Regions from separate parts of the Homo sapiens genome. Here region 2 is reported to be linked to region 1. The links are microRNA targets in miRTarBase. Many come from high-throughput screens and were not tested one by one. Region 1 holds a microRNA gene; the other region holds the end of a gene's coding sequence.

The links. Region 1 holds the annotated microRNA hsa-miR-2277-5p (AGCGCGGGCUGAGCGCUGCCAGUC, at 1,354-1,377, opposite strand). A microRNA usually pairs through its seed, bases 2 to 8, with sites in the 3' UTR of a target mRNA and lowers its output. Matches are read on the target gene's strand: a 7mer-m8 pairs with bases 2 to 8, a 7mer-A1 pairs with bases 2 to 7 and ends in A, and an 8mer does both.
Region 2: the mRNA of PAX2 is a reported target of hsa-miR-2277-5p. Seed matches in the 3' UTR shown: 7mer-m8 at 1,442-1,448.

The regions. Positions count from the first base shown.
Region 1 is chr5:93,619,395-93,623,778 of GRCh38, forward strand. It overlaps MIR2277 (microRNA 2277), which reads right to left and starts at 1,394; the gene lies at 1,302-1,394. It overlaps ARB2A (ARB2 cotranscriptional regulator A), which reads right to left. Exons shown (of 11, transcript NM_032042.6): 11 at 1-1,735. The coding sequence ends at 1,593. It overlaps LOC124901028 (a long non-coding RNA gene), which reads left to right and starts at 2,288. Exons shown (of 3, transcript XR_007058874.1): 1 at 2,288-2,549. RefSeq lists a silencer at 1,903-1,952.
Region 2 is chr10:100,826,483-100,830,866 of GRCh38, reverse strand. It overlaps PAX2 (paired box 2), which reads right to left. Exons shown (of 10, transcript NM_000278.5): 9 at 3,772-3,858; 10 at 923-3,324. The coding sequence ends at 3,248. Among named protein-coding and RNA genes, the nearest start is that of PAX2, 83 kb to the right of the region's middle.

The DNA of each region.
Region 1 (4,384 bases):
TTGTATGTCAAACACAGCAATGAGATATTAACAGCTTTAAAACTTGTTGAAATCGGTTCATAATATAAAAACATTTAAGCACGAAGTGGTTGATTTTAAGTTACTTTTCTGAGGCATTAGACAGTTCGAAGTCATTTTGGGTACATTTTATCATGTCCTCAAATAAGGCAGGCATATTAATTGTTGCACACACTTTAAAAAAGGATGAAAACTATTAAATTTATGTTCTCATCTATTAGAAACAATCTTTACTAGGTAATTAAACTTTTCAAGTAATTAAAATATAATGTGAAATTTTAAGATTTTAATCTAAAAGTCAGCAAAACCTTAACATCTCCTGTATTTCACAGTGTTGGCCACATCTTAGCTGGATTAAAATAATTGTTCAAACTGTAGGGCTAAACCCTACAGAGGAAGCGGAGTGCTAAAAATTATACCATTGGACTGAGAGAAGAAATTCTTTCACACCAAGTCCTTCTCTTCTTGTTAAAGCAGAAAACTAAAAGGATAATTTTAGCCCCACTTAGCCTTTCAGAAGAAAAAGGCTGCAGAGCACAAAGGTTTCGTTTCCTGATGACAATAAAAAAATTCTCTCCCTAGAAGGGCCTAACTCCAGGAAAGCTCAGAATAGATCATTCTGGAAAGGATTAACAACAACCTTTCTCCACAGAGAGATTTAAAAAGCAAAACTTAAGTGTGTTATATCTAAATTACAATGCCACACAGTACACATTATGTGTTTAAAAAGTAAAGTCAATCCCAGTGATAACAGTTGGAAATTCCATTGAAAATGGGACCTTCACACCTACACTTAAAAGAGCTGCCCATCATTGTTTTGGTTTTAACAGTCTCTTCTGAAATCAGAGACTTGTGTAAACTCTCACAATTAGCTGGCAAAAGGATTTTCAGCAGTAATGCGGATTCAGTACTTTATAGATTTTTATGCAGAGTTGTTTTTTTTTCTGGTCCCGAAATGAAAACAGGGAGAGAACAATTTGCATTCCCCAAACTACATGGTACATCATGGCATTCAGGTTCTGAATTTGAAATCGGCTTTGGAGTGTGTGTGGAACTTCCTTAAAAAAAAAAAAAAAGAGGTGGGTAATAAGATGCCCTCAGGGAAAAACCTAGTGAAAATGGAAATCTGAAGTCTGGAATAGAAGTTTGCTCCAGTTGAGAGCGGGGAAAGATGGACATGATTAAGGAGGGGGAAGCAGCAGCGGCTCCGCTACGGCGGGCGCTAGGACCGCGCCGACGCCGCCGGACCCGCAGCGCCCGCGCGGTCTCCTTCAGGGCAATTAGAGCTTCGCCGGCCGAGCCAGGCAGGGCGCTGTCAGCCTTAATGTGAGCGCTGACTGGCAGCGCTCAGCCCGCGCTCAGCCCGCAGGAAGCACGACCAGTGAACCCATATTGCTTTGACAGTTGCACTCATCTAGAAATAATGCAAAACGCTATTTAGATGTATATATCACGACCCTGGGCTCTGGGAAGAAAACAATCTAATGAGGGGCTGGGAGTCCGCTCGACACAAGCAGTGAGGAGGCGTGCGGGTGGGTGCGCCAGGGCGGCCTCCCCCGTCGCGCTCGCTCCTCTTACAGCTCTTCGTGCTTGATGCGGTGGGAGCGGCGCGTCACAGCCGGCTTCAGGGAGCTGGTCTTGGCCTCTGAGGCTTCGGTAAAGAATTTGAAAATAGACGGAAAGCTCTTCCAGGAAGTTAGCTCGTGACGGTCGGTGCCTGCAAAGAACAACACATTCGGTTACCAGGTGGCCACGCGGGGCCAGGCGCGGTGAGGGCGGCGAGGGCCAGGCCGAGCCCCGGCTCCCGACCACCCGGTCCCGCCCCTCCCCGCCCCTCCCGCCTGCGCCCCGCCTCAGCCGCCCGCGCCCCGCCCCTCAGCCAGGACCCCCGCCCCCTCGCGGGCGCGGGCCAGCCGACTCCCAGGGCACAACTAGGGCTGCGGGGTCACTTGCCCCCTGGCTCAGAGGAACTCAGACTTCGCTATCCGCGGCGTCTAGGCGTCTCCGGCCTCAGTCCCCATCCCTCTCCCAACGCGGGGACGCGGCCCGGATCTGTCCCGGGGTCGTCCGAGGCGCGGCTGGCCGCCCGAGGCCTCCGCCTCTCCGGGCCAATGGAAGCGCTGGGCGGGAAGGGCCACTCCCTCTCCCTCCGGGAAACCACCCACTCCCGAGACTCGGCGCGCGCGGGGATTGGTTTCCCCTGCGTGCGGGATCGCACAGCGCCTGTTTCCTTGCTTCCCAAGGGGGTGGTGTGGAGGGGAAGGGGGAATGATTTTTCTTGCGTCTCCCGGAAGCTGTGCTGTTAGACACAATTACCTCAGCTAGGTCACTGAGACCAAATCATACGGGACGCTTAATGAAGGACCGCATTCAAAAGGGATTACGCCTTGAAGTGTCCTGGCGGGCGACATTTTTACAGATTTTAAGGGGCAAATTTAGAACAGCTAAAAAAAAGGTTTCAAAGCCGTGACTACTAAAAGAGCATCTAGGCCTCCCATTTTATCAGGAGGAATTCAACTTAGAAAATGCAGGTTAGTTGTCAATTTATGGGGTTACTTTATTTTACTACGGCTTCTCTCTGTGGTTTCGATGTAATACTAATGTACAGCATGTTTTCAAATCAAATCGACCTTCAGTTTAACACAGGCAGCGGATAACACGGATGCAAGCATAAGAACAGATGAGGAAATACATTTAGCTATTTTTGACTCCCTGTGATGGCTTATGTAGCATTTTACCAGTGGCTTCATAAATGAGCACTTTTTAAAATTAAAAATTAAAATAATTACAGACTTCCACAGAAATAATGAGTGAATAGCTTTTAAACAGTTGAAATCTCTTCCTAGATCACTCAATTATGCAGAGAGATACCGCTTGGAAGTCTCCGGATTCAGGGCCTCAGTCTGATACTTTAACATTGTTAATGATAATTCTTTAGTCTGTAATAGTAGGTCATTGCTATGGTTACTCTACAATGGTGCAACACTTTGCTTTCCCCTTCAGCTATTCGCTGAGACCTGGTAACCACATTTGTTGCCTAGCAACAGTTTTGTGACAGTATCACAATCTAGGAGTTACAACAATAAGGATGCTATGGCTGCTGTCGGCCAGAGAGCAGAAAGCTACAGTCTGTGCCTGACTTAGCTGTGGGAGCTGGCCCTACTAGAGAACCCCTCTCTCTTTATCAGTGCCCTCCCAAGGATTCTCTCTATCCTCCTTTCCTCTGCAGACTGGCCTCATGAACTTGAATTTGAAACTAAGACCCAGTATTAAAGTCATATCCCCCAACTCAGACTAAAAATGAGGTCATTTTATTTGCTTACTCATTTTGGGCAAAATTCATTGTTACTCAATAGGAAGGAGGGATGAGTGTAGGTTTATCTTGTTAAATCCTAAAGTGCTAGGTGGATTTTGACAATTCTTCATAGAATTCTTGGGGGAAAATTATATATATATGCCTGCTTGCATCAATAGGTGTTATAATACATAACATCTAGATATTATTATATTTTTACTGATTTATTCAAATGACAATCTTAAAGGATTCTTTTGAATTTGGAGGCATTTATATTTTCCAAACCTAACTGAGCAGTTCTACATATGCTCAGACATACCTGCTTTAAATGATATTTGCGGGTAGATCTAGGAGGACCAGTTTCTGGATAGGGTTATCAAATGTGTGTCTCTATTCTATAGTGTTTGCAACCCTAGTTTCACTTCAGTAATAACTACACAGTTGCACTTATAATGGTAGGACATTTTAAAATCAATTGTAATTCATTTTGAAAGACCATTCTCAGATGCATACTACGTGGCAACACCCACCCCCAAATACAATAAGCCAAAAAAAAAAAAAAAGGTGTTAATTGTCTCTTTTCGTAACCATTTCCCAAGCTTACAGCCACATTTGGCATTTCCTCCATAGTGATCACACTTACACCTACTAGTGTTACTAAGGCTATGATCAATTTGTAAGCTTTCTCAGGGAATTCCCCTCATAATTCCTCCCACCCCTTGAAACCAATTCAATCTATGAATCTAGAGGGACCTAAGGAGTCAACGGTCTGAAGCAATTTTAACTCCTTTATTTCTTCTTTACGGGTAACAATCCTTCTGAAGGATGAACAGATTTCCCTGGTGATAAAATCACTACAAAAGCTTTTTAGTTTTAGCTTTTGATGACTCTCTGCTTGATTAGTCCTGGACTGAAAAGACCAGAGTCCCTGAGATAACTGAATACTTGTACTGGCTCTCAACATTTACTCTTGTAATTTAAGAGTATAAATAATGAGAATGTGTGCTTCTGTCAGACGAAGGGAAATTGCTAGGAGTAAAGGTAATAAGGTAGGTTAGCAACTGAATTACA
Region 2 (4,384 bases), not on the chromosome of region 1:
AGAACAATCCTGGACAGTCACCACATCCCCCTTCCCCCTGCAACCTCTCCTAAACAGAGAACAGAGAGGTGGAGACATACAGATCTTTCACTGGACACCTGGACACAAGAACAGCAAGGATGGCTAAAAAAACAATTCTCCTACTACCACACCCCCAGACCCATCCAGGGACATACAGACGAACACATAGATGAACAGAAAGCCATACCTATGCAGGAACCCGCCGACCGCCCCGCGACAGACATAGGCGCCTGCGCGCCCTCTCCGGGACACACCCAGACCACAGCACAAGGCGCACCAATTTCAGCCGCTGCTTGCTGGGGCTGGGGCTCCGCAAGACACTGGAGGCGCGTGAAGTCCCATGAACCAGCTCCTAGGGCCTCTGCGGGGCATTCTTCGGGCCCAGAAGTAAACGCAGAGCGAGGAAACTTGCGGCAAGCGTCTGCGGTCTTCGCGTTTCATTGCAGACTTCGGGGATAAAATTGCTGCTGCGCCCACGCGCAACTGCACTGGATAGGGAACGGAGGGAGGAGATAGGACAGACGACCACCCCTCCACCCACGTGGAGAAGGCCTCAGACTTCGGGTTCTGAGAGCCAGCACCCTAAATCTGGGTGCGGGTGTACTGGTAGGACCACAGAGTTGGCCTAGTATAGGCGCCTAACTAGGAGTTATTCTGAAGTTTCGGAGAGTAAGAACTTCCTGTCCCCAGGGCCGGGGTGCGTGGGGGAGGGTGGCTACTAAAGGGCAGGCTAGTCTCGGCCTTCGCCGTGGTTCAGCTGCCGCCAAGGGGGTCTCGGCAAAGGAGTTGGAGGTGGCAGCGGGAGTGTAGTTGGGAGGATCATTGAAGGGGCTTTTGGGGATCGACCAATGGAGGGGAGGCCCATCTCAGAGACAGGGAGAGACAAACTTGGAGCCATGGGGAGTGACATACAAAATTTTATTCTTTATTTATTATTATTATTTATTTCTTATGTGCACAAAAGAAAAAGAATCAAAACGAACCGACGCACTGAAAGTGGCCGAGGAGACCAGAACCGTCCGGGGACATTTAGCAGGTTAGGCCTGGGCCTGGGTCCGGGGTCTCTGCCCGGCCAGCCCCACAGGACTGGGATGGGCCGGACCTCGGCGCCCTCGCCGCCCTCGCCGCCCCGTTCGGGCCACTGGAGCCTGGCTGGGCGCCGGGTTCCCTTAAACGATTCTCTTTTCTCTTTTTCCTTCTCAAATAAAAAGGGCTCGCAGGGGAGAGAGATCTGGGCGAGGACTCCAAGCCTTTTCGGATTTGTTCAAGGATTTTTATTTATTTTCACTTTATTGACTTTGTTTCTGTTATTTCGAGTCGTCACGATCCACGGGTGAGGAGACATGCAGGGCGCATCGCCACTACCGAAAGAGCAACTACGGGGCGGGACGGGGCGGCCCGGCCTTCGGCCGCCCGGGGCGCGCGGGGCACGCCCGCGAGGGGGCGAGCCCGGGGGCTGGAGCTGCCACCTCGGATCTAGCCTGCGGAGACAGGGCGGCCGGGCCAGGTCTGGGGAGAGAGGCCGAGGAAAGAGCAGAGACAGACAGACAAGAGCGACAGAGACGGAGAGAGACAGAGACAGAGGGGGAGAGAAGCGGAGAGGAGAGAGGGGCAGAGGGAGAGAGGGGCAGGGAGGAAAAAGCGAAAACACGGAATTACAGAGAAAGAGCCAACAAAACAGGCCAGAGGAGTCCACAGGACCATGTTCGTCATTTTGCATAGAGATTTCTTTTCTTTCGTAATTTTTTTTTGTAACATAAAAAATGCCCCCCTCCCCCAGGACGTGCTGTGCTTTAATGGGCGTGTAGCTGTGTCCCCCCCTTCCCCCCCAGCGAGCGGCGACTCTCACAGCACAGACAGCGGGGCGTATCTACAGGCAGGGCCGGCGGGCGACAGGGACTCTACGGGGCCGGGCGGGGCGGGGCGGAGGGGGAGGGGTTATGTACACCGGGTTTCGCCTTCACACGACACACACCGTCTTTCCACAAAGCAGCAGCCTGGTGGGCTTTTGTGTTGTTTTGTTCCTTTTTGCAAAGACCATCATATTAAATAAATGTAGACTTTTTGTGGTTCTGTTCAGTTCCTGCCGGAGGAGGAGGCTGGGAGGGGATGGGAGGAGTGGAGTGGGCAGCCCCCCACTTCCACCCCGCAGCAGCTCAGACGCCAGCTCAGAACCGGTTCTTACCACCGGCAGATTGAGAGTCTGTGTCGGGGGAGGGGGCATCAAGTAACTGCTGGAGGAAGACCCCAGTCCGCAGTCTATGGAAACTGGTCCTGCGGCGGTCCCGGGAGAGCGTCCGATGGGGCTGCGAGTCAGGGAGGAGGATGCAGGGCGTCAAGGGACAGGCGAAGGACTGGCAGGAGGGGAAACTGGGAGGCCAGCAGGTGGAAGAGACGCTGAGGTAGGGGCAAGGCAGGGCTGAGAGCCGGGTCTCGCAGCAGGAGGTGCCGGGCCCTGGGGAACTAGGCAGGCCAGGAGGAGCAGTGAAGAGCCGAGAGTCCGGCTCGATCGGTGCGGGCTGCTGGGCCCCCCGATCCTTGGGTCCCAACCTTGGAAAGACCTGACGCCCCCAAAGCCCGTTCCTAGAGCCGGACCCCCACACCCCCATTCCATCTTCTGGGACAGGGCACACCCGGAAGGCGAGGGCAGTCCGGCTGGCACTGGGGGAAAAGAATTTTTCCCAGGGATTCGGCAGCGGGCTCTTCCTCCTGCAGAAAGTCGTTTTCTTCTTAATCTCCTTGGCCCAGCCCCTCCAGCGAAGCCTCCTGGCGCCCGAGCGTCCGAGGCGGGTGCCCGGGGCTGGGCCGCGCTGCGGTCCGCGCTGATTGTGTGTCACAGAAACATCCGGCGCGCGCCAGCAGGTCGCGCCCGAGTCCGGCAGGGTGGCTGGCGGGCTTCGGGGCTGGCTTGGTGGAGGCCGGGACGAGCTGGGCCGAATCCCCCTCACGGCGCCGCGCAGTCCAGGCAGGCGGGGAGGGGCGGCAGGCGGGGCTGGGGGCGGCGGGCCCGGGCCTGAGGGTCCCGCCCACGGCTCCACCCGTCCTGTCCGACCTTCGAGGGGGGTGATGTGAAGGGTTGCGGGGGTCGTGGGATGGGGTGAGGCTGGGGCGGTGGCCGGGAGGCATCGCGTCGCGTCGGTCCTCCCTCCCTCCGGGGTGGGGTCAGACGGGGACGATGTGGAGGCCGAAGCTGTCGGCCTGAAGCTTGATGTGGTCCCCGCGGTAACTAGTGGCGGTCATAGGCAGCGGCAGCAGCGGCAGGGGCGGAGCCCCGGGGGGCGGCACTATAATAATAAGGGGAACCTGGAAGTTAACACAGGAGAAGAATGGGCTGGGTGAGAGGACAAACAGGAGAACAAAAAAGGAAAGAAAAGCACAGAAAAGACCTCCCCTGGCTGGGGTCCAGCGGGATCCGGACTGGGAGACCTTGGCTGGGCAGTGGAGCCAGTTGCCCCGGAGAATAGTTGCGTTCACGGGGCATGAGAGGGACCCGATCTGGTGACGCCCGGCTGCGCACCCTCCAGGGGATCCGAGGGCGAGGGCGGCGCAGAGCCTTCGAGCGACCAGGGAGGGCACGGGAGGGCAGGAGGTGCGGGCGTCCTCGAGGGGTCCCCGGGCCTCAGTGCTGCACTAACAAGCCTGTCCCCCTGGCCCGGCCGGGTCCCCAGAGGTCGGGTCGCCGGGAGTGGGACCGTGCCCAGAAGCCGCGCGGCCGCGCTGAGCCGCCGGCCAGCCAGGTGGCGTACTCACTTAGTAAGGCGGGGTTGCTGAATCTCCAAGCCTCGTTGTAGGCCGTGTACTGGGGGTGGCTGTACGGGTTGCCGGAGAACTCGCTCCCTGCGGGAGGGTCGGGGAGTGGGGATCAGACGCCTGCAAGCCAGGGCGGACCCCACGAGTCCGGCCGGTGGCTTCTCCGCCCGCTCCTCCCGCCGGGTCTCAGGCGCAGGTGTCGCGGGCAGGGTAATGGCCGTGGCGGGCGGGCCGGGCGGAGGTGGGGCGATCACCGCGTCCGCGTGGAGAGAGCCCGGGGAGGCGGGAGGCACCGACGCGCTCGCACACCCACGGGCGGGACCTGTGGGCCGGTGCCCGCCCAGGGCTTCCCAGCGGAGGCGCTCGCGGCCACCCACGAAGGGTTTGTATTGGGGCGCGTCCACCCTGTCGCGCTGGGGGCCAGGGCCTTTATAGATGCCACTCCGGTTCTAGGAGGCATGGCCCCTAATGGGTGGAAATGGGAGTGGGGGGCGGTGGCGAAGAAAGGCCTTCGGGACATTTTTCTCCCAGAAAGTCCTAAGAATGGCATCAATGTGCAGTGCCAACACAAGAGGTGGGAGCTCTTTTGGGAGACACCGCCCTCCCGCCTTTC